Linked DNA regions of Homo sapiens. The protein of the gene in region 1 interacts with the protein of each later gene in a pairwise test. Each region holds a gene or a part of one and is shown in the gene's direction. Other genes may lie near its edges. The genes, in order: PRDM14, CARD10, WDR25 and HSPB7.

Region 1 (7,023 bases):
GAAGACCTACGGAGACAATTCTGTGATGTGGGAGGTAAATCTGTTTCTGGTGGGTCTGCTGCTGAAAATGGGGCGGGAGACTAGTCCGGGGAAATCTTGGCCTTTGCCCTTTTGGGAGAGTCCTGGTCAGAGAGAGAGGACATCCAGGGCAGATATCTGTGGTTTGTGTTGCCTGTAAAAGGAAGGAACGGCCAGTGTTTGCTCCATGAGGATAGCACCTCTGCATGAATTCTGTGTTTTGTGGGTGCCTTAAGTCATTTTAGTCTGGAAGATTAGCAATGGAATATACATTTAAAGAATCAATATGTTGTATTATATTTATAGACAAAACTAAATGCTTTAGATATTATAGAGTGCTGAAACTATGCTAAAGAGAATAAAAACAAGTTTTAAAATTCAATATTATTCACCTATAAAATTAGTCAAGGATTAAAAAAAAAATAACCAGATACTCTTCAAGATCTAGTGATGATATATTAGGGATATGCTAGTGGGACTGCAGTTTATTACCTGCAGGAGAAAATTTGTCAGAATGTATCAGATACCTTAAAATGTTCAAAGTCCCTTGACCCTGAATTTCTACTTCTAGGAATATAGTACAGGAAAATAATCTGAAATTGAGGCTATGTGGAATATGTTAATCCTAGGGTTGTTTATAATAACAAAATGTTGGAGACAGCGAAATTGCCAGCAGCAGAGAAAGAAGTAATCTTTCTTTGTTTTTTTTTTTTTGTTTTTTTTTTCTTGAGACGGAGTTTTTGTCTGTTACCCAGGTTGGAGTGCAGTGGCGTGATCTCAGCTCACTGTGACCTCCACCTCCTGGGTTCAAGCAATTCTCTTGCCTCAGTCTTCCGAGTAGCTAGGATTACAGGCATGTGCCACCATGCCCGGCTAATTTTTGTATTTTTAGTAGAGAGGGGTTTCACCATGTTGGCCAGGCTGGTCTCGAACTCCTGACCTCATGATCCGCCTGCTTTGGCCTCCCAAAGTGCGGGGATTACAGGTGTGAGCCACCAGGCCCGGCCTTGAAAGAAATAATCTATAGCTCCATTAATATGCATGAAACCTAACTGGGAGTAAAATATAAAACTATTCAGTTGTGTTTAAGTGGTGGAATTAAATAAAACCTTTTTGTTTCACTTACCTCTGCTTATGAAATTAACATGTGCTCACTATAGGAATTTGGGAAGCAAGAAAGTGATAAAAGTAAGAATCTTTTAGAATATGTCACATTAGGCAGGCTCAGTGGCTTACACCTGTAATTCTAGCACTTTAGGAGGCCAAGGTGGGAGGATCACTTGAACCCAGGAGTTTGAGGCCAGCCTAGGAAAGAGTGAGGCCCTGTCTCTACAAAAAATTTTTTTAAAAAAATTTGCCAGGCGTGATGGTGCATGCCTTTAGTTCCAGCTACTCAGGGGGCTAAGGTGGGAGGATCATTTGAGCCCAGGAATTCGAGGCTACTGTGACCTGTGATTGAGCCACTGCACTCCAGTCTGGGCAACAGAGTGAGACTCTGTCTCTGAAAAAAACAAACAAACCCAATATGTGACATTACCTAGAGAGGTGTCCTTAAACTAACAAATCTATGTTGGCATAAGTAAATTTATAAACTACTTGTAATGACATAAAAATCAGAATGATAGAAGTGTATTTGGTGGACTCAAGTGTGATATTTAGGTTACAAGTATTAAAAAATTTATTTTATAGATTAGACCAAAAAAGAAGTACAATACAAACTTCATGTCTTATTTCATTTAGATCTTTGAAGATGGTCATTTGAGCCACTTTATAGATGGAAAAGGAGGTACGGGGAACTGGATGTCCTATGTCAACTGTGCCCGCTTCCCCAAGGAGCAGAACCTAGTTGCTGTGCAGTGTCAAGGGCATATATTTTATGAGAGCTGCAAAGAGATCCATCAGAACCAAGAGCTCCTTGTGTGGTATGGAGACTGCTATGAGAAATTTCTGGATATTCCTGTGAGCCTTCAGGTCACAGAGCCGGGGAAGCAGCCATCTGGGCCCTCTGAAGGTGAGTGCACACCCTCGCCTTGCCCAATGAGGGCATCCCAGTAGAAGGACTGGGCTCTTTTCCACAAACCCTCCATGCACAGCTCCTCCCTCCTAAAGGCTAATGCAGAGGACTAACCGAGAGTGTCTCTAACCAGGGGGGAATTACCCAGGTGAAGGAAAGCATCCTCAATTTCCCAAAGCTGCGGAAGCTACTCCTATTTATAAAGATATATACTCCTATTTATAAAGACTTGTTCTTCTTCCCTACCTTCCACCCCAAGAGTAAAAGAAAACGTACTAAATGGATGTAACTTCTACCATAGGTGAGCCAGTTTCTGATTCATCTCTGCCCAGGCTAATGTAGCTGAAGTCTAATCACTAGAGCAGTGTTTTTCAAATGGTGGGTTGCAGAGTTGCATGTCTTAGTGGGGTGGGAAATCAATTTAGTGGTCAAGACCCACATTAAAAAAAAAAAAAAGTATAGAGTAGAATAGAAAATATTGATGGGAATCCCTTAAGAGTAAGGATTGTTTTGTGAAATTTCTATTTCACATGGGTATATGTGGGTATGGTGGGTGTCAAGCATAAAATACATTGCCTACTATGGGTCTCAGGCAAGTTTGAGAAATACTGAGCTGGACTCTCACTCTCAAACTTTAATGTGGGAATGAATACCCAGGGATCTTCATGATGCTGGTTCTCATTCAGGGTAGGGGCCCAGGATTTGGTATTTTTATCAACTTGCAGGGAGTGCTGCTGGTCCTGGTCCCTGGTCCACATTCCAGTAGCAAGGGGCGAGGGAACCACCAGCCCACTCTAGGGGTGAGACTTTGGAATTTGCATGTTAAATAAGCTCTCCAAGTGATTTCTATATACACTGAAGTTTAGGAACTACTAATCTAGTAGGTGGGACAAGATAAATGTAAATTCCTGTAAATAAGAGAGAAGGCAGGCCGGATACTGTGGCTCACACCTGTAATCTCAGCACTTTTGGAGGCGGAGATGGGCGGATCACTTGAGGTCAGGACTTCAAGACTAGCCTGGCCAACATGGTAAAACCTCATCTCAGGTCGGGCACAGTGGCTCACGCCTCTAATCCCAGCACTTTGGGATGCCGAAATGGGCAGATCACCAGGTCAGGAGATCAAGACCATCCTGGCTAACGTGGTGAAAACCCGTCTCTACTAAAAATACAAAAAATTAGCGGGGCGTAGTGGCACACACCTGTAGTTCCAGCTACTCAGGAGGCTGAGGCAGGAGAATCATTTGAACCCAGGAGACAGAGGTTGCAATATGCCAAGACCGCACCACTGCACTCCAGCCTGGGCAACAGAGTAAGACTCCGTCTCCAAAAAAAAAAAAAGAGAGAGAGAGAAGGCAAATTATTATGATGTAATAAATGTGTAAGGAGCAGGTTTAAAAAAAAAATGGCCCAGGCGTGGTGGCCCACGCCTGTAATCCCAGCACTTTGGGAGGTGAGGCGGGCGGATCACGAGGTCAGGAGATCATAGCCATCCTGGCTAACACGGTGAAACCTCTTCTCTACTAAAAATACAAAAAAATTAGCCGGGCGTGGTGGCGGGCCCCTGTAGTCCCAGCTACTTGGGAGGCTGAGGCAGGAGAATGGCGTGAACCCAGCAGGGGGAGCTTGCAGTGAGCTGAGATTGCGCCACTGCACACCAGCCTGGGCGACAGAGCGAGATTCCGTTTCAAAAAAAAAAAAAAAAAAAGTAAATTGCATCTGCATGCCTGTTTTCCTGCTAGGCTGAGATGCTTCAGGGCAGGAAATAACCCTAAACACTTTAGTATCTCGTGCTTCTGGATCCCAGTGCGTACTGACTGAGAGGAAGACATTAGAACTAAGCTAGAAAAAGCTGCTTAGGGATGAGATGAAATAAGGCACGTGTAAGAGGGAGAGAGGGAAGGCAATCAGGCTCAGGGAACAGTGAAGCAGAAGGCAAGGAAATGTCCAGAAATTAGGGGGTAAATAATAAGCAGTCATTATTTATCTAATGATAAATAATGAGCAGTCAGCCGTCATTATTTATCTAATGATAAATAATGGTCCCAATGATGAGGGGCTGTCAGGATTGTTTTGGTGAACTATCTTCCTACTCCCCCAGGTATCTTATGTCCATGCTGGGTTCCCCCCGCCACTGAACCATCATAAGCCCTCATTCTGTTGCTTGTTCTGATCGCCTCTGATATCTGCATACAGGTTGAGTATCCTTTTTCTGAAATGCCTGGGACCAGAAGTGTTTTGGTGGGTGGTGTGGGTGTGGGAATGTAGGTGAAGATAGGAATGGAGGCAAAAATGGTTGGGATTCTCTATGATCTGTGGAGCTCTAAGTTGTCTCCTACTTAGCACCAAACCAAGACCTGTTGGTCACTTCCTGAAATGTACCAACTCCTTTCGAAATAAAAGTCAACAGGCTGGGCGTGGTGGCTCACACCTGTAACCCCAACACTTTGGGAGGCCAAGGTGGTTGGGTCACCTGAGGTCAGGAGTTCACGACCAGCCTGGCCAACATGGTGAAACTCCGTCTCTACTAAAATACAAAAAATTAGCTGGGTGTGGTGGTGCATGCCTGTAATCCCAGCTACTCAGGAGGCTGAGACAGGAGAATCGCTTGAACCCAGGAGCAGAGGTTGCAGTGAGCTGAGATGGCGCCACTGCACTCCAGCCTGGGTGACAGAGTGAGACTCCATCTCAAAAAGAAAAATGAAAGAAAGAAAAGTGAACAATGGATTTGAGAAAAGTATCTGCTTAGTAACTGGCAAGATGGTTATTATCCTTTTGAGAAATCATTATTATTTTTTGAGATAGGGTCTCACTCTGTCACCCAGACTGGAGTACAGTAGTGTAATCTAGGCTCACTGCAACCTCTGCCTCCAGGGTTCAGGCATTTCTCCTGCCTCAGCCTCCCGAGTAGCTGGGATTACAGGCATGCACCACCACACCCAGCTAATTTTTGTATTTTTAGTAGAGATGGGGTTTCGCCATTTTGGCCAGGCTGGTCTTGAACTCCTGGACTCAAGTGATCCACCCACCTTGGCCTCCCTAAATTCTGGGATAACAGGCATGAGACACCATGGCCGGCCATTTTTGAGAAATTTTTTCACCGTATGTATCAAATTATTACAATGTTTGTAACTTTGATGTCTCAGTAATACTCTTCTGGAAATCTATTATCGAGAAATAGTCCAAAAGGAAAAAGCTATGCTTATGAAAATTTTTAACTGTGGCACCACTCTTGTGAGTGAAAAATCACAAACAACCTAAATGTTCAGTAGTATAATAATTAAGTAAATGATGATACAGGCTCAGCAGCTCCAATCAAGAAATCCCAAATCCAAAATGCTCTAAAATCTGAAACTGAGCACTGACATATTGCCAAAAGTGGGAATTTCCACACACCAGTACTTGACACAAACTTTGTTTCATGCACAAAATTATTTAAAATATTGTGTAAAATTACCTTCAGGTGGGCCAGGCACGGTGGCTCATGCCTGTAATCCCAGCGCTTTGGGAGGCCGAGGCAGGCAGATCACCTGAGATCAGGAGTTTGAGAACAGCATGACAAACATGGTGGAACCCCGTCTCTACTAAAAATACAAACAAATTAGCTGGGCATGGTGGCAGATGCCTGTAATCTCAGCTACTCAGGAGGCTGGAGCCGGATAATCGCTTGAAACCGGGGGCGGAGGTTGCAGACCGAGCAAGATTCCGTCTCAAAAAAAAAAAAATTACCTTCAGGCTATGTGTATAAAGTATGTATAAAACAAAACATAAATGGACTTTATATTTAGACTTTGGTTCCATCCCCAAGATACCTCATTATGTATATGAAATATTCCAAAGTTCGAAAAAAACCTGAAATCCAAAACACTTCTGGTCCCAAGCATTTCAGAAAAAGGATACTCAACCTATTTGTTATTAACATGGAATAGTATGCCGATATCAGAGGCAATCAGAGCAAGCAACAGAATGAGGGCTTATGATGGTTAAGTGCAGGGGATACCCAGCATGCAGATAAGATACTTGTGTTCCAGTTCTGAACCAAGTGATACCTGATGCTTACAGCATTATTATGAGGACATATATTTTGGACAATGGAGGGAAACTTGTAAACAACTTAATTTGTTGGGAATAATTATAAATGAATGTTAATTTGTTAATCTGTTAATATGAATGGTTTGGATGTGATAAAAAGGAAAGAAAAATTAAAATTCCATTGCATTCTCAAATGAGTTTTTTTCCCCAAAGGCTTTTTGGTGGGGATTGGTGGTAGGTGGGAGCCTTCCTCTTTAAGGTCTTGAGTGGTGAGGGAAGGGTCTAGACTCTATGTGGGCGGGTTATTTGAATATGCAAGCATTCCCCTCTTGTGAGGGAGAGAGGGAATTTGGGTGTGTGTTTTGGGGTGTGGAGGTGTGAAGAGCTAGGGGGAGGGAGGATAGGGAACAAGATAAAATTAGGAAGGATAGGGAACAAGATGAAATTAGGTTTCATTTCTACCTAAGTGGTTGTTCTTAAGCGAACTCAGTATTGAAACTTTATTCTGAATTTTGGTGTGCTTTAGTGCTTAGGTTTGTAAAATTGCTGACCCTCTCTTCCCTTCCCACCCCAGGAAGCAGGAAGGCCAGGTATTTCTGACCAATAAAAATTCTACCTCTGTGCCAAAAAAGTGTCCCAGCACGGGGATTCTGAGAGTATTAGCACCTCAATGAAAGTGATAGACAGAGCAGGGCGATGGATCAGCTTGGGGCTGGCAGTTGCCTTCCTGGTTATTTACTTAATGAATAGTTTATTTCCTTAGCCACCTGTTAAACGTGCCTGGGATGTAGTTGTCAACTAACAAAGCCCCTGATGGACAGCTTCCCTGCTGTCCTGATGCTGAGAAGATTTCTATCTGCAGACTCTTGCATAGACTCACTCTTGGCTGCTCTTCCTCCCTGGGGTCAAACAATGAGATCTCTGTGGTGCATTCATAGTCAAAGCCACTTTATCCTCTG
Region 2 (7,023 bases), on another chromosome or scaffold:
TCGTCCCTGTGACTTGGGCTGGTCCCTTCACTTCTCTGGGCCTCCATTTCCTCAGTAGCTAAAGGGAGATGATGACCCTTTTTGCATGGAGGTCTTTTGAGGGCTCTGCTCGCAGAAGCAAAGCACCCAGCTCTGCCAGGCATGTAGCAGGTGCTTAGTAATAGTTGTCACTTACAAGCTGTCCTCGTCCCAATGTCCTGCCTGTCAGTCCCTTGGCTCTGAGTCCCTGGGACTGAGCCACCCAGCAAAGTTTCATGCTGTGGGTGGGCTTGGGTCACCTCAGGAGCCCCTGTGACCGGGCCAGCCACAGGTCCATAACAGGAGTCACAAAGCCCATTAGTGCAGAGTGCACTGTAGGCGACGTGCTGTTAGTGTGGCCGGTGCGTGGCCGCTGTTCACACCTGCCAGTGTATCTAAGGGAGGGGTGGGGCAGAGCGGGGGCTGCACGGCCATTGTGGTCTTGGAACTCAGCTGTGAGGAGAGGGCAGGTAGGGAGAGCATCCGGTGACTGTGGAGGAGGAGCGAGGGGGAAGGGCGAAAGTCAAGGCTTCCTGAGTCAGGCTGGGAAAGTGTGGACTTTGGCTTGTACACTCTGGGAAATGTGGGAGGGTTTAGTTATTAACTGCAAGGCCAGCTGCTGGCTGTTTTACAACATGCTCTTTGTCCAGGGAGTAGGCATAATGACGATTATCTCTGCTCCATAGAGGAGGTAACTGGGGCTCAGAGAGGTTAAGCAACTTGCCCAGGGTCCCACAGTTGGGAAGTACCAGGTCTGGGTTCATAGTGACCTGATCAGATTTGGGTTTTGGAAAGGGCATAGGAAACATGGACTGTCAGCGCTGGAATGTGGAGGTGTTGGGTGCAGAGGGATGGGTCACGCAGCAGATGGGTACAGCATAGGACCAGGGCCTCTGGCCTCCGGAGCGGCTTGGTCAGCCAGTGTCCAGGCCCTGCCCCCACCTGGCCCCCGGCAGTGGGCTCAGCGAGACATTGTTTTTGCCTGTGCAGGACGTGCTTCTCGGGGAAGGGGTGGAGGCGCCTCCCTTCCTGCTCGCCTCGGCCCTTCCTCCCTTCCTCCAGTTTGGGCTGCAGCAGGGGTCCTGGCTGTTGTCCAGGGGGCGCCAGGATGCAGCCAGGGAGCAGGAGCCTCCGTCCCAGCCCCGCCCAGGCCCCACGATCACATGGGGCCACTTCTGCTGCCCATGCTGTTCCTGGGGAGGAGAGAGGTTCCTGGGGAAGAACACAGGCTGGGGAAGGTGCAGAGGTGGTGGACAGAGAGAGAGAGAGAAAGAGAGAGAGAGAGGCAGACAGGCGGAGAGGAGAGGGAGAGGGAGATGAGGGCCCGGACAGGTCCCAGGTCGGGGCAACTTGTGTGTCTCCTGGGATTGTGTTATGGCGAGGTGGGAAGAGCTGGCTTTGGTGTCAGCACTTGCTACTGTGGGACCTTGGGCATGTCTCTGAATTTCCCAGTGCCTCAGTTTCCTGCTCTGTAAAATGGGCTCACATAGTGCCTGTCCCTTAGGGTCACTATGGGGGTTTGAGTATCCCTTCTAGAATGCTTAGCACACTCACGGTGGATGTCAGCATATGCTCGCGGTTAGTTATGATTATTGTCGCCATTGTTGTTTAATCCTCAGAGCAGCTCTGCAAGGCTGGAATTTTAACCTCGTTACACAGACCAGGACACTGAAGTACAGAGACAGTTAGAAATTGGTCCCAAGTCACAGGCCCCTCGGAGCTGGTTGGAGATTCCGATGTGCCTCCCCACTGTCTCAGCTGTTGGAGATCTCACATCCGTATTGTGTGCCCACTTTGTACTGGGCACCATGTTGGGCATTTTCTCTCCTCTTTCCCATTTCCTGCCCATCTCTTGCCCTCAGCCTCTCTGCCCTGCCCTTCTCAGCTCCTGGAGCCTGGGTGCCGGGAGGGGATGGTGGATAGTGGGGGGCTGGGGCAGACCGGGGGTTGGGCTGACAGATAGTCAGGTGGGGGACAGCAAGGGAGAACTCATGGGGCAAGTGAGGTGCTGGGTGAGAGAGGCAGAGCATGGAGAGCACTGGAGGGTTTCGGGGTGCCGTCTCCCCAGCATAGCCTCACCACTGCCCAGCTCGCTCACGTGGCCCCAGGGGATCTCTGGCACCTTCTGTCCTTGCAAAGAGAGGGTTCCCATAAGTCATTGCCTGGCTCCACGGCCCACTAGCTGTGCCCATTCTTGGCAAGTTAACTTTCCTGTGCCTCAGTTTCCCTTATCTCAACCATCGGGTTGTCAGGAGGATTGACTGAGGTGATCTGTGTGGCATGCTTCAGTCTCAGCATCAGGTCCCTGACCTGGTACCAAGCAGGCACGCAGACTACTCAGATATCTTCCCACGGGGCCCTGGGGGACATTCATTGAGGCCATGTGGCCTGTCACTGCTCAGAGCTGGCAGAGCTGGCAGACTTGCCCCGTTCCTGTCTGCCTGTGACCTGACCTGACTGGGGAGGGGGCTGGGAGCTGGTAGCTAAGGACACTGTGCTTCCTAGTACCACACAGGCAGCCAGCTGGTCAGCCAGTCCCAGGAGCGGGGAGCAGGCAGCCCCTCTCCCTGCTGTGTCCTTTCTCTACCCCTCCTGCTTGTCTGCTGAGGCGGGGGGCTGGGAGGAACCCTATCTGGACCCTGCTCTGGGCAAGCCCCTGTGGGCTCTGCAGACTCCGAGGAGTGCTGGGAGCAGGTATTCCTGGTCTGTGGAGGCTCAGAGAAGTCACTGGTCCTTTGAGGAGGTTGGCAAGGGCGTCCTGGAGGAGGGGGCGCCTGAGCTGGGTCTTCAGGGAGCTGCAGGAGTTGTCAAGAAGAGCCTGAAAAACCTGAGTTGAAAGCTGAGGTCAGCCTTGATGCTTGCATTGCAGAGGGGAGAGGTGTGGAGGAGGGAGCGAGTAGAGGTGGGTGGGGTGGGTAGGGTTGGTGGAAGAGCCTGGATGCCAGCTGCTTACTGGGCTCTGGTCTGGAGAGGCCATGATGGTCAGTTGTCTGTGGGTTTGAAACAGGTGGGGAAACTGAGGCAAGCGAGAGGTGATTTGTTGTGAATCACACCTGATGCCAGTAAATGTCTAGTTTTGACAGAGCACTTAGTGTCTCCTGGGCCCTGTTCTGAGAGCTGCCCATGTCTAAACTCAGCGAGTAGCCAGGGAGGTGGGTGGAGCTGAGGCTCAAGCGGCTGAGCAGCTGGGCCGTTTGACCCCAGAGTTCCTGCTGGCACCCTGCGTGCTGTGCTTCTCGGACCATCTGACCACAACCCACAGTGAGAGAAACCCGGTACACATGCCTGGAACAAAAAGGTCATGAGATAATAATTGGATTTACCTGGGGTGGCGGGAGCGGGGTGGGGGATAGCATTGTACTTTCTATTCCATAGCATTATCCAGCTGTCCCAGTCGCAACCCAGTGAATGTTACCAGCCACTAAGGGCCAGGCCTGCAGTTTGGAGGCCCCAGAGTCCTCTGGTTTCCACCTCTCCCTGCATTATCTTTTATTCATGTGCCCCCCCCCCCCACCCCCCAGCACCCACAGAGGGCAAGGGGTGTCATTGTCAGCTTCGTGTTATGCATGTGGTAACTGACGCTCAGCAGCCGGCTCATTTGCCCAGGCTAGGGTGCAGTTTGCCCTGGGGTTTGGAGCGGACCGTGTGCTCCAGCCACAAAGCCAGGGCCAGCATAGCCAGGCCAGGTCTCAGGCCTGCCCCCTTTCCATGCCACCTCGATGCAGCCAGGACATGCGGCACTGAATGATGCCTCCCATGCCTGCATCTGTCCAGCCCCTCGGCCTGGCTCTGTGTCTTACCTGAGAGGGCGGGGCTGTTCCCCAGCAGTGCCGATTGGGTGGGAGGTCCTTGCAGCCGCGCCCTCCCCAGGCTGGCAGCAGGGGGCAGTGCAGCTGTGTCTGGGCTGCAGCTGCTGGGGTGGATGGAGATGCTTCGCCCCGCTGCCTCTCCAGCCAGCACACCTGCTGACCTTGGTCTCCCCACCTCCTCCAGGCCAAGGTGTCTGGCAGGGGACTTGGGGTCCATTTGTCTCTGAGCCTGGCCACAAGGCCTCACCTTTTCTCATCCAGGGACAGGCAGAACCCTACCATGATGGGGATTTTGGTGACGTCTTAATTGTCAGTGGTCCTCCTGCCCATGGGAGGAAAACCAGACGCCTCTGTTCCACGCCCTCCAAAGGGTGGCTCCAGCTTGCCTTTCCTGGGAGCTGCTTCCCAGGATGTAAAATAAGAATTAGGGCAAGGAGCTCAGCATGGTGTCTGGCACATGGAAAGCACCCAGGAAGTGTTCGCTGCTATTGTTATTATTAAATTCTTCCACGCATCCTGTGTTCTGTCCTCCACACCTTTGCTCTGATATATTCCTTCAGCCTGGAACTCTGTTTCCTCCATCTGTCACCAAAGTGCATCTATTCTTCACCAGCGTGTAGCCTAGGTACTTCTTCCGTGGGAAGCCTCTCTCTGCTTCCACGGCTGGTTGTAACCACCTTTGGATCTGTGCCACGTGCTAATGGTGACCTCCCTCCTCAGACTGTGAGCATAACAAGCTTTTTTTTTTTTTTTTGAGACAGAGTTTCAGTCTTGTTGCCCAGGCTGGAGTGCAGTGGCTCGATCTCGGCTCACTGCAACCTCTGCCTCCTGGGTTCAAGCAATTCTCCTCCCAAGTAGCTGGAATTACAGGCGCCCACCACCACGCCCGGCTAATTTTTTTGTATTTTTAGTAGAGATGGGGTTTCACTATGTTGGCCAGGCTGGTCTCGAACTCCTGACCTCATGATCCGCCTGCCTCGGCCTCCCAAAGTGCTGGGATTACAGGCGTGAGCCACCGTGCTTGGCTATATAACAAGCTTTTATTAGTCATCTGCTATGTGCCAGACACTGGGTTTGGTGCCAGGGCTACAGAGCGGAACAGTATAGAAGTTTGGTCCTGAAGGTGTTCGTTCTGATGGAGGAAACGAAAGGGCCGTGGCAAGGCAAAGTTGGAGTGCTCTGTGGCACGCAGGCTCCACTGCACCGTGTGCCCAGGTCCAGGGGAGAGGCTGCTTGTGACTTGAGATTTGAAGGATGATCAGCATTTCCCAGGTGGAGAAGGCAAGGAAGAGGGCACAGAAGATGGAGAGGCCTGGGGGTGGGAGTCATGGCATACTTGGGAAATGAAATCACTGTGGTTTTCCAAGAATGCTGAACTGAATCCAAGTACTGATTGGACTCCAATTCTCATCTCCTTTCTCCCTTCTCAGGTCTCTGGCTATTCGGGTGTCTGGCCGGAGCCCCCCAGGGGGCCCAGAGCCGCAGGACAAGGGACCAGATGGACTGTCGTTTTATGGGGACAGATGGTCTGGGGCTGTGGTGCGCAGGGTGCTGTCTGGGCCTGGGTCCGCCAGGATGGAACCAAGAGAGGTGAGGCCCTGCCTCCTGAGCTGGGGGGGTAGGGTCAGTGCTTTTGCCCAGGCTGGACATCCCTTAATTTGGTGGATCAAGATCACCGGGCAGAGCTTCTGGGGATTGGTCAAAGCCGAAGCGGGCTCAGTGATTAGCTGTGGTTGCCTGCTCAGCCAGGCTTAATTGAAGTCTGATTGGGCAGGGACTGGGAGGTGGAGCCAACTGACAGCACGTTACATTCCTGCGCTTCAAGTCGAGAAAGACCTGGATGAGCTGGGCGGGTTGGGGAGTCCTGTGGATGGGGGCGTCCTGTGGATGGGGACGGGTCTGACTGGGCTGGGCATGGCAGTTTCTGAGGGGGCGCTATCTGAACTGTGAGGCATGAAACACCCCCACACCTGGTCTTCCTCCAGCCCCTGGGCTGCTCTACTCTCAGAGGCTCACTTCTTTCCCTCCCTGCCTGGGTTTTCTCCCAGCAAAGGGTGGAAGCTGCTGGTCTGGAGGGGGCGTGCCTGGAAGCCGAGGCCCAGCAGAGAACCTTGCTCTGGAATCAGGGGTCCACACTCCCCTCCCTGATGGACTCGAAGGGTAAGTCTGGCTTGGGAGTCGGAGCTGTTGGCCCCAGAGGGGTCCTCTAACCCGTGGTGCATGGGGTGGGGAGGGACCAAGGACCTGAGAAGGGACCAGCCTTGCCCCAATTGCCCTTCTCCTGGCTCCCCGCCTGCTGATGCCTCCTTCTGTCTGTCCTTGTGCCCTTTCTCTATGCCTCCCTCTGTAAGCAGCTTACAGTGAAAGGAGCACTACATTAGGAGTCCAGAGACCTGGGTTTGAGTCCTGGCTCTGTTTCTAGAAGGCACTGGCCTTGGGCAAGTCCCTGCCCCCTCTGGACCTAAGTCATTCTAAGAAGGTGAAGGTCGGGTCCTGGGAACTCAGGCCTCGAGAGGGCCATGTCTTTGGCCCCACCAAGGCCGATCCTGGACCTCACCATCCTCCTCTTGTCCTCCTTGCTGCCCCCTGCCCCATCCATGCCCAGCCTGCCAGTCCTTCCACGAGGCCCTAGAAGCCTGGGCAAAGGGACCAGGTGCCGAGCCCTTCTACATTCGTGCCAACCTCACCTTGCCTGAGAGGGCAGATCCCCATGCCCTTTGCGTGAAAGCCCAAGAGATCCTTCGACTGGTGGACTCGGCATACAAGCGGAGGCAGGAATGGTTCTGCACCCGGGTTGACCCCCTCACTCTGCGGGACCTGGACCGGGGCACCGTGCCCAATTATCAGAGGTGACGCAGAGCCAGGAGCTGGGGATGGGGTCCCCCTGGGAGCCAGGGCTCAGATGGGGGTGCTCTCCCTCCACCTGCATTCCCTCACCATCCTCTGGGACAGGGCGGGGGGTTCGAGGAGAAATGAGGAGCTTTCCTTCTTTCTACACACATGATGTCACTCCCTCCCACAGAGCCCAGCAGCTCCTAGAAGTTCAGGAGAAATGCCTGCCCTCCAGCCGGCACCGAGGCCCCCGCAGTAATGTGAGCACGGCTGGGCAGGTAGTGGGTGGGGGGCCCCAAGGGTGGGGTCCAAAAGGGAGCTAGCAGGCTCTGTTCTCTGGCAACCTAGGAAGACACTCCCTCCC
Region 3 (7,023 bases), on another chromosome or scaffold:
CCTCCCGGGTTCAAGCAATTCTTCTGTCTCAGCCTCTCAAGTAGCTGGGACTACAGGCGCCTGCCACCATGTCCGGCTAATTTTTGTATTTTTAGTAGAGACGGGGCTTTGCCATATTGGTCAGACTAGTCTTGAACTCCTGACCTCAGGTGATCCACCAACCTTGGCCTCCCAAAGTGCTGGGATTTCAGGTGTGAGCCATCACGCCCAGCCTAGGTCTTCTTTTATGTCCTTCAATAAAAGTTTTAGTTTTCTTTCCTTTTTTTTTTTTAATTTTACTTTTTTGAGACAGAGTCTCACTCTGTCACCCAGTCTGGAGTGCAGTGGCACAATCTCGGTTCACTGCAACTTCCGCCTCCTGGGTTCAAGTGATTCTCCTGCTTCAGCCTCCCGAGTAGCTGGGACTACAGGTGCGTGCCACCACGCCTGGCTAATTTTTGTATTTTTAGTAGAGATGGGGTTTCACTATGTTGGCCAGGCTGCTCTTGAGCTCCTGACCTTGTGATTCCCCCCGCCTTGGCCTCCCAAAGTGCTGGGATTACAGGCATGAACCACTGCACCCAGCGCTTTTTTCTTTTCTTTTCTCTTTTTGAGATGGAGTCTCCCTCTGGCACCCAGGCTGGAGTGCAGTGGTGCAATCTCAGGTCATTGCAACCTCCACCTCCTGGGTTCAAGAGATTCTCCTGCCTCAGCCTCCCAAGTAGCTGGGATTACAGTTGTGTGCCACCAGGCCTGGCTAATTTTTGTATTTTTACTTGAGATGGGGTGTCACTATGTTGGCCAGGCTGGTCTCGAACTCCTCACCTCAAGTGATCCGCCCACCTCAGCCTCCCAGAATGCTGGGATTACAGGTGTGAACCACTGCACCCAGACTTACTATAAGTCTTCATGTAGGTCTTGCTTATTTTTTACAGATTTACCCCCAGCTATTCCATAGTTTCAATTTCAAAAATTTTATCTTCTAACTAATTGGGCCTGATATGTAGAAAAGCCTTTTTTGTTTTTGTATTTATTCTTTTTCTTTCTTTTTTTTTTTTGAGTCAGAGTCTCGCTCTTGTTGACCAGGCTGGAGTGCAGTGGCACAATTTCTGCTCACTGCAACCTCCGCCTCCCAGGTTCAAGCGATCTCCTGCCTCAGCCTCCCGAGTAGCTGGGACTACAGGTGCCTGCCACCCTGCCTCGCTACTTTTTGTATTTTTAGTAGAGACGGGGTTTCACCATGTTGGCCAGGCTGGTCTCGAACTCCTGATCTCAGGTTATCCACCCACCTCGGCCTCCTGAAGTGCTGGGATTACAGGCGTGAGCCACCACGCCTGGCCTGTGTTTATTCTTATGAGTGTTGAGTTATTGGATTTCCTAGGTGACATGGTTTCTTATAACTACATACATATTCTTCCATGCACATTTTCTGACGGTTGACCTTGTTTGATCTTAGGTGGTTTGGCTTTGAATGACAGCAAGAACTCTGTCTTTAATGGCTTCATTGGTAGCGTATGATGATTCGGACTCGGAGGCTGAGACAGAGCATGCAGGAAGTTTTAATGCTACCGGCCAGCAGAAAGACACTTCTGGTGTGGCCAGACCACCTGGGCAGGATTTTGCATCTGGTACACTGGATGTGCCCAAAGCAGGGGCACAGCCCACAAAGCATGGCTCCTGTGAAGACCCAGGGGGCTATCGCCTTCCATTGGCTCAGCTTGGGAGAAGCGATTGGGGATCTTGCCCCAGCCAGAGGCTACAGTGGCCCGGGAAGGAGCCTCAAGTCACCTTCCCCATCAAAGAGCCTTCTTGTTCTTCTCTGTGGACGAGCCATGTTCCAGCCAGCCACATGCCCCTGGCAGCTGCCCGCTTTAAGCAAGTAAAACTCTCCAGGAACTTTCCCAAGTCATCTTTCCATGCTCAAAGTGAGTCTGAAACCGTAGGTAAAAATGGCAGCTCTTTTCAGAAGAAAAAATGTGAGGACTGTGTGGTACCCTATACTCCCAGAAGACTAAGACAGCGGCAGGCATTAAGCACGGAGACAGGCAAGGGTAAAGACGTGGAGCCACAGGGGCCCCCTGCAGGGCGTGCCCCAGCCCCTCTCTACGTGGGCCCGGGAGTGTCTGAGTTTATTCAGCCATATTTGAATAGCCATTATAAAGAAACCACAGTTCCCCGGAAAGTGCTTTTCCACCTGAGAGGCCACAGGGGCCCTGTCAACACCATTCAGTGGTGTCCAGTCCTTTCTAAGAGCCACATGCTTCTCTCCACTTCTATGGATAAAACTTTCAAGGTAAGACTTGAATGAAAACTTCTGCTTTCAGATGCTCTTAGGAATACACTGCTGGAATAATAGTGAAGTGGAGGGAGGTTACAGGCTGAACTTTTTTTTGTGTGCAGATTTCTGTAATTCCCTTTGTTGCATTCCAGAAAGGGTCATCTGTGGTCAGCTCCGGGTTGTGGGTTCCTTCTGCCCCAACCCTTCCCTGATGCTGCCTTGCTCAGGTTACCAGAGGATACTGTTTCTTATCCCTCTCGGAGGCCGTGAGGGAGGAGGTGAGAGTGATTAGTGGGAGAAGAAAAGCAGGCCCAGGACCAAGCCCTGGGGACTGGGGACATCCTCGGTGACCCTGTGGAGCATTGAGCCATGCCAGCTCTGTGCCTGGTGCTGTGCTGGTTTCAAGGGCTGTTGGGAGAGGTAGGTAGACCCAGCCCCTGGTGTCAGGGCTTGCACAGTGAGGCGGGAGCCGTGGACAAGTACACAGACTCAACCCTGAGCTGTGAGGACGGCCCCCAGTAGGACACACAGGTGCTCTGGGAGCCCAACGGGAGGGTTACCAGCCCAGCCCGGCAGGGCTCAGTGAAGGCCTCCTGAGGAAGGGGAAGGTTCGCTTGGGGATGGGGGCAGAAGGGCGTGCTTGGCTGCAGGAGCCCTGTGTATGTGTTGGCTCCAAGCATGAGGGCCTGGGAGCTGGCTTCAAGCATGTGTGGGTGAGGGACTTGAGGCTGGGGAAGCAAGGTCAGGGAAGGTTGCACGTGCCCTTCTGGGGACTTCTGGTTTTACATGGAAACTCTTTTTTGCATTGTCTTATTTATTTTACAGGCTACTGAAGTGATAGTAATGTAGTCCCCCAGTATGGAGGTACAGTGTGATAGGTCGTTGTGCCCACCTGGGACCTGTCTCCAGCCCTTCGAGCTGTGCACTGCATCCCTCCTCTCTCTCCTCGCAGCTAGCAAAGCACCTGATATGTAGCGGGTGCCAACTAAATGCTAGCTGAACAGAAAGCTCTTGGAAAGGAAATAACTTCAAGGGACCTGGCTTCACATCCAGCTTTGCTGCAGAGTAGCTAGCTGGTCGACCACTGGCCGGCTGCCTTCCTGTGGAGTCTAGTGTCTCATTTGTAAAAGGGCAAAATCATACCTGGGTCATGTGCTCATGTGAGAAAAATGCTGAAAAAGTGCCTTGCACAGAGCCAGGTACCTCATAGGCGCTCAGTAAATGGTGGTTCCCTTGCCCTTGTTTCCTCAGAGTTCTGGAACCAACTTTCCTACATCTTTTCTCTTGCAAATTACATTTTGAGCTTTTCTCCCTCGGAAACATTTTCTTAAGTGAAGAAAGGAAGCTCCAAGTATAGAGATGTCTTTGAAATGAGCTGAATTGATGGGTGGCATTTTTAAGTGGCGAACTGGAGTCCTGAAGTGGCTTGTCTGTGCTCTTTTCTAGCAAGACTCAGAGTCCTGTGGGAGAGAACGTCATATTCTCTCTTCAGCCTGGAGTTCCAGGATTTTCCACTTAGGTCTTTGGTGCTTTTCCTGCCATTCCGGGGGCTGTGAAGTGTGCGCGGAGGCTTCTGGCATCCCTGGCGTGGATCACAGCATGCTGGGATTGATCCTGTGGCCCCGGGGCTTCTCTGCTCTCCTTCCCAAGTCTGCGCTGCAAGGGCTGGAGGATGGGAAGCCCATCTGGAGGGTTGCTGGTGGGCCTGGGCAGTGTCTGACTGGCCCTGGAGTTCAAGTGGTGGCCCTTGTCCTCCCTGTGCTCACCTTCCTGTTGAGGCCTTCTTTTACCTGCCCGCTCACCTCTGGAGTTCTCTCTCCTGATGGTGAGGGGCAGACCTGGGGCCCTGTGGGACTGGCCTTCGCCTGGTGGCGTGAAGTGCTCCCTGGGCCCTGCTGGCAGAGTGGCAGCTTGGGTCACTTTTGCCTGGGAAATTTAGATTTCCTAAACAGAAGCATCCCCATGGTAGTTTTTGAGCAGAGAGCACCTGAGTAGAGGCATTGATTTCTGGCCTTGTGGAGTAGACAAATGTGCCAGGCACGGTGCCACTGGGGACGTGGGGGGAGAGACGTTTCTGCCCCCATGGAGGGGAAACTGTGAGCAGCCAACTAACTGTGACACCTCATGACCAGAAGAGGGCGCAGTGGGCCCAGCTTGGAATGGCAGTGAGGGTGGCTCAGACTGAGGGACTGTGGTAGGAATGCCCTGCTCCTGGGCGATTCAGAGACCTGGGTCCGGGTCTGTGGGGCTGCCCTGGGTGGGGCCAGGCGCCGCAGCTGTGCCCGCCTGTCCCGAGGAGACTGTGTGTGCTGCAGGTGATGACACTGGCATGGGCCCCTTGGGCTGCCAGGCAGCTTCTGGGGAGCCCCACCCACTGCACTGTGCACCCTGGGTTCCTTCCCAGGGCAGAGCACATTTGCTGTCATGAGGTTGGGCCAGGGTCAGCATGGCTGCTAGGGTTGGCATCTCCTGACCCTCTTTTTTTACTGTGGTGTCGTGAACATTAGGGCTTTTATAAGCCATAGATACAAATGGTGGGCCAGGGCCCTCTCTGTTTTAAGATATTTGTCAGTTTTCAGTGATGGGGTTATTTGGCAAATTGGTTTTGGGCAAATTGACTTTGAACAACTTTTCAGTGTGAAGAGTGTATGGCAGGGGCTGGAGGAGCCAGGATGGGAAGACAGATTGGGAACCGGCGGGGAGCCAGGCAGGAGCTGTGGCCAGAAGTCCCGGCTGAGGCCTCAGGCTTGCTGGGCCACCAGGTTTGTGCGTGGCCTGGCTGGGAGGCACATGGTGTTCTTTTCCCTCCTTGGTGTCAGAGGTGGGGCAGCATGGCAGATCTTGGGGACCTGGTGATCTGGGGAAGGCAGTGTGTGGGTGTGGGTGGTGGGTCTGGAGTGGGGATAGGGCCTCGGGCACAGGCAGGAGTCCTGGCTGGCTGCAGCCCAGTCCCTGGAGGAGAGGAAATGGTGGGTGCAGCATGGAATGAGCTCAAAGAGGCGGGTGCAGCAGTACACCCTTCCCAGGGTGCTTTCCCCCTGCCTTTTGGTTAAAATCTGCCAGTGTCTTCTGGGCCCCTGCTGGATCAGGAAGGAGGGAAGAGCTTGGGGGCTGGGTGACAAGACCTGCTTGGGTCCTTCCTCTACGGCCAGCCCCTTGGTTGCGTGGTCTCTGGCAAGTTACCTCACTTCTGAGCCTTCATTTGAGTATCTATAAAGTGGAGAGAATTAAACATGCCTCGCTGGGTTTTTGTGAAAAGTAAACGATATTAGTTGTGAATCACCAAGTGCAATGCCTGGCACATAGCAGGCACTTAGTGTGTGCTCGAGTTCCTGCTTTTCCCCAAGAATTTCCTCCTTTCCTTGACTTGTGCTCATGTCTTATTTTACGTAAGTAGCCATGGAAGCATATCAGCTTCACCTACTAGACTTTAAGCTTCCTGAGCCAGAACCCATTTTTATATTCCCCAGCATCTGGCACAAAATTGTGTACATGTTAAGTGATCGATAAAAATTAAAACAAATTTTTTGGATTTTATCGCAAGCCTTTGGGAAGGGATTGTCTTTTGAGTGGATAAATCATATTCGCCACTAGGGTGCACAGTAAGACTTAATATAAGCAGCTCATCCAAGCTTCTAGAATGTGGAAGAATCCTTGATTCAAGGTAACATTTACTGAAAAATGATTTCTTTCTGATCAGGAGAAAAACAACACAGTCCAACTTATTAATCTAAAGAACATGGAGTGCCAGTTCCTTCATATCCTTAAAACGTAGCTTCGGAATTCATACATTTCAACTGGACACATTACAGTGGAAAGATACTTATTTTAATATGTTCTAAATGTTCTGTGAGCTGTAAAATATGCTTTTATTAGTTTTGAAAAATTTACAGCTAGAGAAATTAAGTAAAATAAAACAATGACTCATAATTCTGCACCGCTGCTCTTTCCTGACGATCCCTTCCTCCCCTTGTCTGTGAACGTGCTTGTTTTTTTCATAGCTGTGATCCCAGCACGGATACCCTTTTATATACTCTTTTCATCTCCCAGTGAACTCTTTTGGCTTAACGTGTTTGAACACCCACTGCACGTAAAGGTAGAAATTCAGACTTTGATGCCTTTTTTTGAAGGAAAACATGTACGTGGCCTGCGTTAACCAAAAACACAACCAGCCGTTATTGAATGCTCCCATGTACAGAACCCTCTGCCAGGCACTGAGAGGGAGTCCCAAAGGAATAAGACCTTTGGGTGGGTGACAGAAGACCCACCAGGGACCTTCTGTACCTGTATGAAAACCTGCAGTTCTGAAACACAGAAGGTTTTTAAAGAAAATATATGAATTAGATGTTGTTTATTTGCTTTACAGAATAATTTGCTCTAGAAATTCTTTCAGTAACAAGCTTCCTTAAAATACTTTGAAAAAAAACCTTTTAATTTTTGACCATGAATGTAATAGATGCTTATTGTGAAAAACTTTAATGATGCAGGAAATATGAAGTATGAAGGAGAAACAGAAATCATTGATAACTCCCAACCCCAAGTCAGTGCCTCATTAACATGAGGGGCCTCCCTGGTCGGGGGCCCTACATTCCTATCTGTTTACATAATTGGGCTTATTGCATAGTATGTGCAGTTTTGAATTCTTCCTCTGCTGCCCAATCTTCTGTAACGTGTAAGGGGAATTTTTCTACCTTATTAAAAACTTTTCCCCAAATATATTTTTATAACTGTCTCAAGTTTCATACTTTGCTCCATCATTTCCATGT
Region 4 (7,491 bases), on another chromosome or scaffold:
TCCCCACCCAAATGAAGAGGAAGGATTGTGCGTGTGTGTGTGTGTTATCACACTAGGTCTGTGTGTGCCCTCATCCCTGAGGTTCCGTCACTGAGGGTGTGTGCCTGTGTGTGTCATTTTGTGGGATGAGGGTGGGATTCCTAGGTGTCCCCCTGTGTCCAGCAGCAGACTGTGGACACCGCTCCCACCCTCCTGGGTCGCTTGGTGCTTCCACTACTGGGAGCAGTCTCTGCCCAGGGCTGTGACTCTCTCACTGCAGAGTCCCATGGATGGCTCCGACTCTCCCTGCCAATCTCGGAGCACCCTCCTTTCTCCCCGACAGCTCAGGTCACAGAGGCAGGAAAACCCCAGGACCAGAAGGCCTCTGCAAAGCCAAAGTGAGGTGCTGGCTACTGCCCCTACCATCCCCTATGCCCTGCCTGCCTGGCCCTTCCAGGTTCATACTCCAGTCCACGCCCAGAGACCCCTCACCTGTCAGTCCTCCTGCTGCGGCTGAACTGGCCCTCCTCTCACAGAGCCTCCTTTGCTCCCAGCTCCAGTGCACCTGGACAGGTATATGCTCTACCAATCATCACTCTCTCCCTGCCACCCCCCTTCCCCGCCGGCCGGGGTTTACCATGGAGATTAAAAACGTCCTTGACAAACCAACCAGAACTGTGGAGGCCAGAGCTGTGCAGGGCAGAACTGCCAAGAGAGAAGGGGAGCAGGAGCCTCCCCACCCATCACAGCTGCACAGAGGGTGGTGCCCAGCTGTACTCAGGCTCCTGGGTGCTGCTGGACGAGGGCTGGGAAGGGGGAGCTCATGCACACAGCAGGACAGAGAGGGGTCATCTGCCAAGGCTGAGACTCAGGGTCCAGGGGTCTCAGAGCTGGACATGGAAGGTTTGAAAAAGCACAGAGGGAGAGGGGAGGAGGCTGGGAAGGGAAGGAGAAGGCAGGGGGGCAATGGTGAGTGGGGCCAGCATGACCACAGCCTCCCTGTGTGTCAGGTAGAGAGTCAGCCTTCTCCCAGATTAATTACCCTGAGTGCCCACGGAAATCCCACGAGGCAGGCAGCGTGATCCCGTTGTAGAGAAATGGTGTCTCAGGGAGCTGGGGCTGCCTGTCTAAGATCACGGAGGCCGAGGCAGAGCCAGGATTCCCAGCCCAGGTTTGCCTGGCTCCAAAGCCCGCAGGCTGTGCCACACGGTCCCATCCTGATGACCCATCTTGTCCAGGGCTGGCGAGGAGGCCGACACCTGGGGCAAGGCAGTGAATTGGGGTCAGGAACTCGGACTTGATCCTGTGTCCAGACCCTCCAGGCTCAGGAAATGCTTCTCAAAGCACACGTCCAAGGGCCAGCGGCTCTGGTGGGGACTTCTGGGTAATTCCACAGAGTTTGTCCCACCCCAACAGAGGATGGCAGCACAGGTGTGAGGGGACATGGCGAGGAACAAGCACCTGCCGTGTGCCTGCGACGTGTCAGGAGCGTCACATCTGCAGCTCAAGTCCTCCTTCCCACACCCTGTGAATGGGGAGAGCCTCGCCATTTTGTAGATGGTCAGAGAGGTGAGTCACTCATCCAAGGTCACACAGCAGAGGCTGAACCCAGCCCCACACTGTGCAGCTCTTCCCCTGCCCAAAGCTCCTCCAGCTCCTGAGGCTGAACCAGGGCAATGGTTTGGGCACAGAACAGAAGAGTTGTGTCTGATGCCACTTTTGGGCAAGAGGTTGGGGACAATTGCCTCCACTCCCACCCAGACAAAGCCACCCTCTGAAGCTTATGATAGCCCTTGGATGATTGTTAAAATCTGGGACCCTGGGCCACCCTTTGCCCCTAGATGCCAGGCAAGTCAAATCAAAATCAAAGATGTGTGTTGTGGGAGGTGGGATGGGAGTTGCCGCTCTGTATGGACTCGAGCCCACCTTCACCTTGGCCACCCCGACCTGTTGACTCTGCACAGCACCAGAACTGGCTGCCCTGTCAACATCCCGATTTCCAGTGTCTGGTCTGGGGCAGCTGCTGGCTACTGTCCCACAGCCAGCACTGCACGTCCACATCTACCCTCACCCCCCAGCCCTGTGTGCACCAGGAGGCTGAGAAGAGGGCAGCCAGGGTGGCTCAGCAGGATGACCGGTTTGAAGCCAGCACAGCTCTGCTGACCCTAACTCTTTCATCAACTAGAGCCTCAGTTTCCTCTTCTGTATGATGAGGTGAGCCTGGAAGCAGGGGCCTGTCTCTGCCTTATTCATCTCTGAGTCCTTCAGAGCCTAGAACAGTGCCCAGCACCTATTTATAGCAAGGTTTCAATGAATACCTACTGAGTGATGAGGGCTTCATCACTGGCCTATGAGCTGGCTGTGTGGGGAGCTGATGGGAAGAGATGTGAGGTCCCTTCCCCAGATCCCAAATCAAAATCCTGGGGTCCAAGGAAAGGGTCTGTGTTTGTGAAAAGCTCTCCTGGGTGACTGGGATTCAAAGGACTGCATCATCTTTGTAGCTCCTTCTGTCTCTGTGATCTGAAGGTAGAGGCAGGGGAATGTCCTTGATGACCTTTTGAGGTCCCTCTGGGTCAGTGAAGCCAGAGGATCCAGTATTTGTGTGGGTGATGCCTCGGGAAGGGGGAAAAAGGGGAGGAGGAATGGTGGGCGGGGGTGGGTAACGGGATCTGACATCCAGGGGCAGTGACTCAGGCCCTCAGCACCATGACAGTGTGTCTGCATTTAGCCACCGGCTCCTGTTTCCCTGGCGAGCGGCAGGCTCTGGGCCCCCCACCCCGCCCCACCCTCTCTCCATCTCACCTCAGTGCTGGTGGCTTCCCAGCTGCCCTAGAAACCCCTCAGCCAGGCTGGGTGTCACAGGCCCCGACACGGGCAGGAAACTCTGCCAGAGGCAACAGGCCCTGTTGCTCCAGGCAACAGCCTGGCCCGCCGCTGTGCCCTGTGCCCTGCTCTGCTTCCACTCCACATACCACCAGCACCGCTAATACCCCTGTAGAAGGAGCTCTCCAGGATGAAGCTCCAGACTGGGTTGTAGGGGGCTCAGACAAAAGAGAAACTGCCCGTCTTCAAGAACCTTCAATCTAATGGGGAGACAGGTGAACCCTCGCCCCCGTGGGAACTGCCAGTTGGATAGGGAAGAAGGGACACAGCAGAGAGTCACAGCACACAGGAAGACTATGTCACACTGCCAGGTGCTGTGGGAGGACAAAGACAGTCAGTGCTGGGGGCATCTGGACTGGGTGTGGGCCCATGTGAGCAGGAGCAGTCAGAGAGGCCTCCCTGGGGGAGGAGGCATTGGAGCTGATCTGGGACGGAAGGGACGGATTTGGAGAGGACAGCAGAGGCCCTTAACTGCAACCTGGGCAGAGCAGAGGGCCTGGCCGCCTCTCAGAATGGCCTCCACCCTGGCCCAGGGCAAGGTCAGTCCCAGCTTTGCTGAGCAAGCAGGTGGGTAGGGAGGGGCTTCTCTGGCTCTTCCGGGCCAGCCTGTCTCCATAGGCACATGTTCAAACCACCTCGGCCTCTGAAGGGCTTTGGGTCCAACACATCTAGGTTCGAATCCCAGCTCTGCCACTTACGCAACTGCGAGCCCCGCCCTTTCCAAGAGGCTTCGCTTCCCCGTCCGTAACATGGGAAGAGCCCCTCCACCCTCCCAGCTGTGTGGGGATCAAACGGGGCCGTGCTGGACAGCTTGCAGCCAGGAGCCCATGCCCAGAAGGCATTCTAGAACTCAGGGCTAGAATAATTGTCTTCCGGAATTCTCTTTTACCTCTGACTGAAATCCCACCTAAGGCGCTCGCAGGCATCACCTCTGACACAGAGATGGAGCAGACAGTTGCCGGGAACACAACCTTCTAGACCTTTAAGGAGAAAGCTGCCAACTTTGTCCTCTTGGGGCTGCTGAATGTTCTGAGAGTCAGAGGGAGTGCAGGCACAGAATCCAGGTCCCCATGGGGGCTGGCAGGGGACAGCTGCACATTTTACACCCCCTGGCAGGGCTCAACCTTTCCTTAGAGATGGGCTGTGAAGGTTGTCTGCCTTGAGGGAAGGAGCTCCTGACGTCACAGAGCGGTGGTGCTTCCACCTACCCTGTCCCCAAGGAGCCTGCACACTGATGGAGGAGGTACAGCCGTGGAGGAGAACCAGAGTCTGGAGGGGAGGCACAGTCCTCAGGAGCCCCCAGGCTGACGGGGGAAACAAAACACACAATAAACCCCAAACTTGCAAGGTTCTGGGGCAGGCACCGAGGTCCGAGTGGCAAGGAGACAGGATCCAGCCCTGTGCAGTGGTGAGGAGGCCCCTGGGGCTGCTGTGATCAGCCTGGAATGTCAGGCTGTGAGCTCAGCCCTCTCGGCCTGCGTGTCGGGCTGTCAGCAGGGCCGGCGCACGGGAGAAGATTTCCAGCCCCCTCTGGGCCATGGAGAGGCCTAAATTTAGCTAGTAGACAAGGGGCTGGCCCCAAGCCCAGGGACAGTCGGCCTTATAAAGCGGCCGCAGTCGGAGCCTGGCACGCTCGCCCAGAGGCCTGCGCCCACACCCTCTCCTGTCCAGCCCTCGCCCGCCTGGGCAGGGCCCGGCGCCGTCCGTGGATGAGCCACAGAACCTCTTCCACCTTCCGAGCGGAGAGAAGTTTCCATTCCTCTTCCTCTTCCTCCTCCTCTTCCACCTCCTCCTCGGCCTCCCGTGCTCTCCCGGCCCAGGACCCGCCCATGGAGAAGGCCCTGAGCATGTTTTCCGATGACTTTGGCAGCTTCATGCGGCCCCACTCGGAGCCCCTGGCCTTCCCAGGCAAGTGATCCGGGCCCTGAGGGGAGGGGAGGTGCACAGGGAGGGGACGTCTGCTCCAGGGCGCCACCGAAGGCGCTGTGGCTGCCGGTCGGCCTGGAACAGGTGCTGCACAGCCTGCAGCCATGTGTGGCCACCAAGACAGATGTGGCCACAGGGACAGATGTGGCCATGAAAACAGGTGGGCCTCTAAGGAACAGTTGTGGCCCTGGGGGTTGGACATGGTTCCATGGCCACCCATGCTCTGTAACCACAGCCAATCCCAGCTGGAGCCCTGGAGGGCTGGATGGGTGAGCGGTGGGGGGCAGCCCCCAGGCTCCAGGCCTGGGGTGGGGTTGTTACAGACCTAGCCTCATATACACACACACTGTGCTGGGTGAGGCCCCACCCCCACCCCAGAAAAGGTGGGCTGTAGGAATGAGGAGGAGCTTAGGGAGAAACAGCTAGGGGGGAGGTAGGGCCTGGGGGAGCCGCCCCTTGCCCCAAGAGAAGGAGCCAGAACCCCCGGATCTGCATGCAAGGCCTGCTCCATGCCTCGCTCACAGCAGCCCATCCCACAGCCCGCCCCGGTGGGGCAGGCAACATCAAGACCCTAGGAGACGCCTATGAGTTTGCGGTGGACGTGAGAGACTTCTCACCTGAAGACATCATTGTCACCACCTCCAACAACCACATCGAGGTGCGGGCTGAGAAGGTGAGCCCCCCACCCCCTACTCACCGCATCCCAAATTCTGCTCCTGCCTCCAATGTCTCCTACTCCCCCTTACCATCCTGGGACCCCAGACCCTGGCCAGTGTCCCTTCCCCACCCAAACTCCCCCAGGGCTAACTGAAGGCCTTGTCCCTGCAACCCATGGCCATGGGGCCCCCTCACTGCCTCTCTTTGCACCGAGGTTCCCAGATCCTTTCTTCCAGGGCCTGAGCAGCTGAGGGAGCCTCCGAGGAATGGGAGAGGGATGGAGGGATGTGGGCAGAGGGAGCCTGAGGGGGTGGGGCTTGAGGGTGGGAGATGACAGGTGTGAGATGGTGATGGCAGAGTGAGGACAGCTCCTCTGGTAGCTATAGGGGGGCGGATGCGGGTAGGTGGGGAACTCACCTGGGCAGTGGGGGGAGGGGTTTCTCCATGTGACCCACCTCAAGCCCTCTTCCCTCCCACAGCTGGAGACCCATCCCCCATCTTGGGACCCCTAAATTAGGCCCGAGGCTGGGCAGGGGCCCTGCAGTTTCGGGTCACACACACTCCAAACCACACACAGCGCCCGCCCACAGGTCTCAGGGTCACTGGGTCTCTAGCGTGTCTGAGTCCGAACTTCTAGGAGGCACTGGGGCCTCCACCCTGGAGAGGGTATGGCCAGGCCTGAACAGGGGCGTTGCCCAGGGACAGCCACGGCTGCCAGGAGAGAGGAGAGGACCTGACCCAAGCCTCCTCCTAAGCCCCCAAGGACTGGCTTCTTCCCCTCCACATTCAAGGGTGGATTTCTGGGCGTCCCTGCCAGGGATGCCATGGACTGGGGGCACCAAAACCCACAGGCAGCATGTGCCAGCCCTGCCACCCCCAACAGTGACTCAGCCGCCCCAAACTCCCCTGGACACTATGTGCTGGCTGAGTTGCGGGGGAGGGGCCGGCGCTCAGCCCTGGCGGGCAGATGCCCAATGTGCCCGGGGATCCAGGAAGGCACGGCTCTCCTCTGTCACCTCCACGTTCCCCAGGAGCCCCAGATTCGGAGCCACTGCCACGGAGCCTCCTCTCTCTCCAAGCCCCACCTCTTCCCCATGTCCCTGGCCTGTTCCTTGGAGCTACTGGAGCTCTGCGAAGCACCCCTGCGCTGTCCCTGCAGAGCCTTTGGCCTGTGGCCATCACCACCCTGGGCAGCCCCTCGGCACCTGAGGGCAGAGCCCCTCGGCATGTGGGGTCTGGCTGGGGTTAGAATGGGGAGAAGAGGGCTCTGGCTTGTCACAAGCAGGACAGGGGTCGGGGCAGCCTGCCTGACGGGTCACCCCTTCCCCAGCTGGCGGCTGACGGCACTGTCATGAACACCTTCGCTCACAAGTGCCAGCTGCCGGAGGACGTGGACCCGACGTCGGTGACCTCGGCTCTGCGGGAGGACGGCAGCCTCACTATCCGGGCACGGCGTCACCCGCATACAGAACACGTCCAGCAGACCTTCCGGACGGAGATCAAAATCTGAGTGCCTCTCCCTTCCCTTTCCCTGTCCCCCCGCCCCACGCCTGCCAGCAAAGCCTCGCTAACCCCATTACAACAGCTCCAGGACATCTCAGCCCAGGTTCTAGCCCCCACGCACCCCAGACCCCAGGTGGACCATCCTCCCAAACTAGGGCCCTCCACTCTATCCAGGGCAGGCCAGGGACTCCCTGGCCTGACACATGATGCCCAGATTTCAGATTTGGCCTCCGTCACTTAATCCAGAGTACAGGGGCTGGGGTCAGGGAAGGAAGATCTAAAGAACCCACTGTGGGTCAGGGGAATGGGACCAGCAGGACATATGGGCAAGCTCTGCAGGACAGACAGACAGACAAACCCTCTGATCTATGAAGTCTCTGCAGGGCAAGGGGACCAGGGACCTGGAACCCTCTTGGCCAAGGGGAGTGGGAGGGACAGAGGGAAGGTCACAGGCAAGGGTGCCTATCTAAGTGGAACTAATTGCCCGAGGGCTCAGCAAGGCCAAGAGGAGACAGCCGTGACGGTAAACTTCCCCTCTACCAG

Evidence for each region.
Region 2: the proteins of PRDM14 (region 1) and CARD10 interact in binary tests that used the Homo sapiens proteins (3 or more experiments, as listed by UniProt).
Region 3: the proteins of PRDM14 (region 1) and WDR25 interact in binary tests that used the Homo sapiens proteins (3 or more experiments, as listed by UniProt).
Region 4: the proteins of PRDM14 (region 1) and HSPB7 interact in binary tests that used the Homo sapiens proteins (3 or more experiments, as listed by UniProt).

The regions. Positions count from the first base shown.
Region 1 is NC_000008.11:70,061,241-70,068,263, reverse strand, and holds part of PRDM14 (PR domain zinc finger protein 14), read left to right. Parts: coding exon 1-34; intron 35-1,758; coding exon 1,759-2,029; intron 2,030-7,023. UniProt on the Homo sapiens protein: Transcription factor that has both positive and negative roles on transcription. Required for the maintenance of embryonic stem cell identity and the reacquisition of pluripotency in somatic cells.
Region 2 is NC_000022.11:37,495,413-37,502,435, reverse strand, and holds part of CARD10 (caspase recruitment domain-containing protein 10), read left to right. Parts: intron 1-5,257; coding exon 5,258-5,417; intron 5,418-5,875; coding exon 5,876-5,987; intron 5,988-6,432; coding exon 6,433-6,676; intron 6,677-6,849; coding exon 6,850-6,919; intron 6,920-7,023. UniProt on the Homo sapiens protein: Scaffold protein that plays an important role in mediating the activation of NF-kappa-B via BCL10 or EGFR.
Region 3 is NC_000014.9:100,379,475-100,386,497, forward strand, and holds part of WDR25 (WD repeat-containing protein 25), read left to right. Parts: intron 1-1,435; 5' UTR 1,436-1,450; coding exon 1,451-2,272; intron 2,273-7,023.
Region 4 is NC_000001.11:16,015,044-16,022,534, reverse strand, and holds the start of HSPB7 (heat shock protein beta-7), read left to right. Parts: upstream 1-4,491; 5' UTR 4,492-4,571; coding exon 4,572-4,770; intron 4,771-5,312; coding exon of another isoform or gene 5,313-5,327; coding exon 5,328-5,461; intron 5,462-6,775; coding exon 6,776-6,955; 3' UTR 6,956-7,491.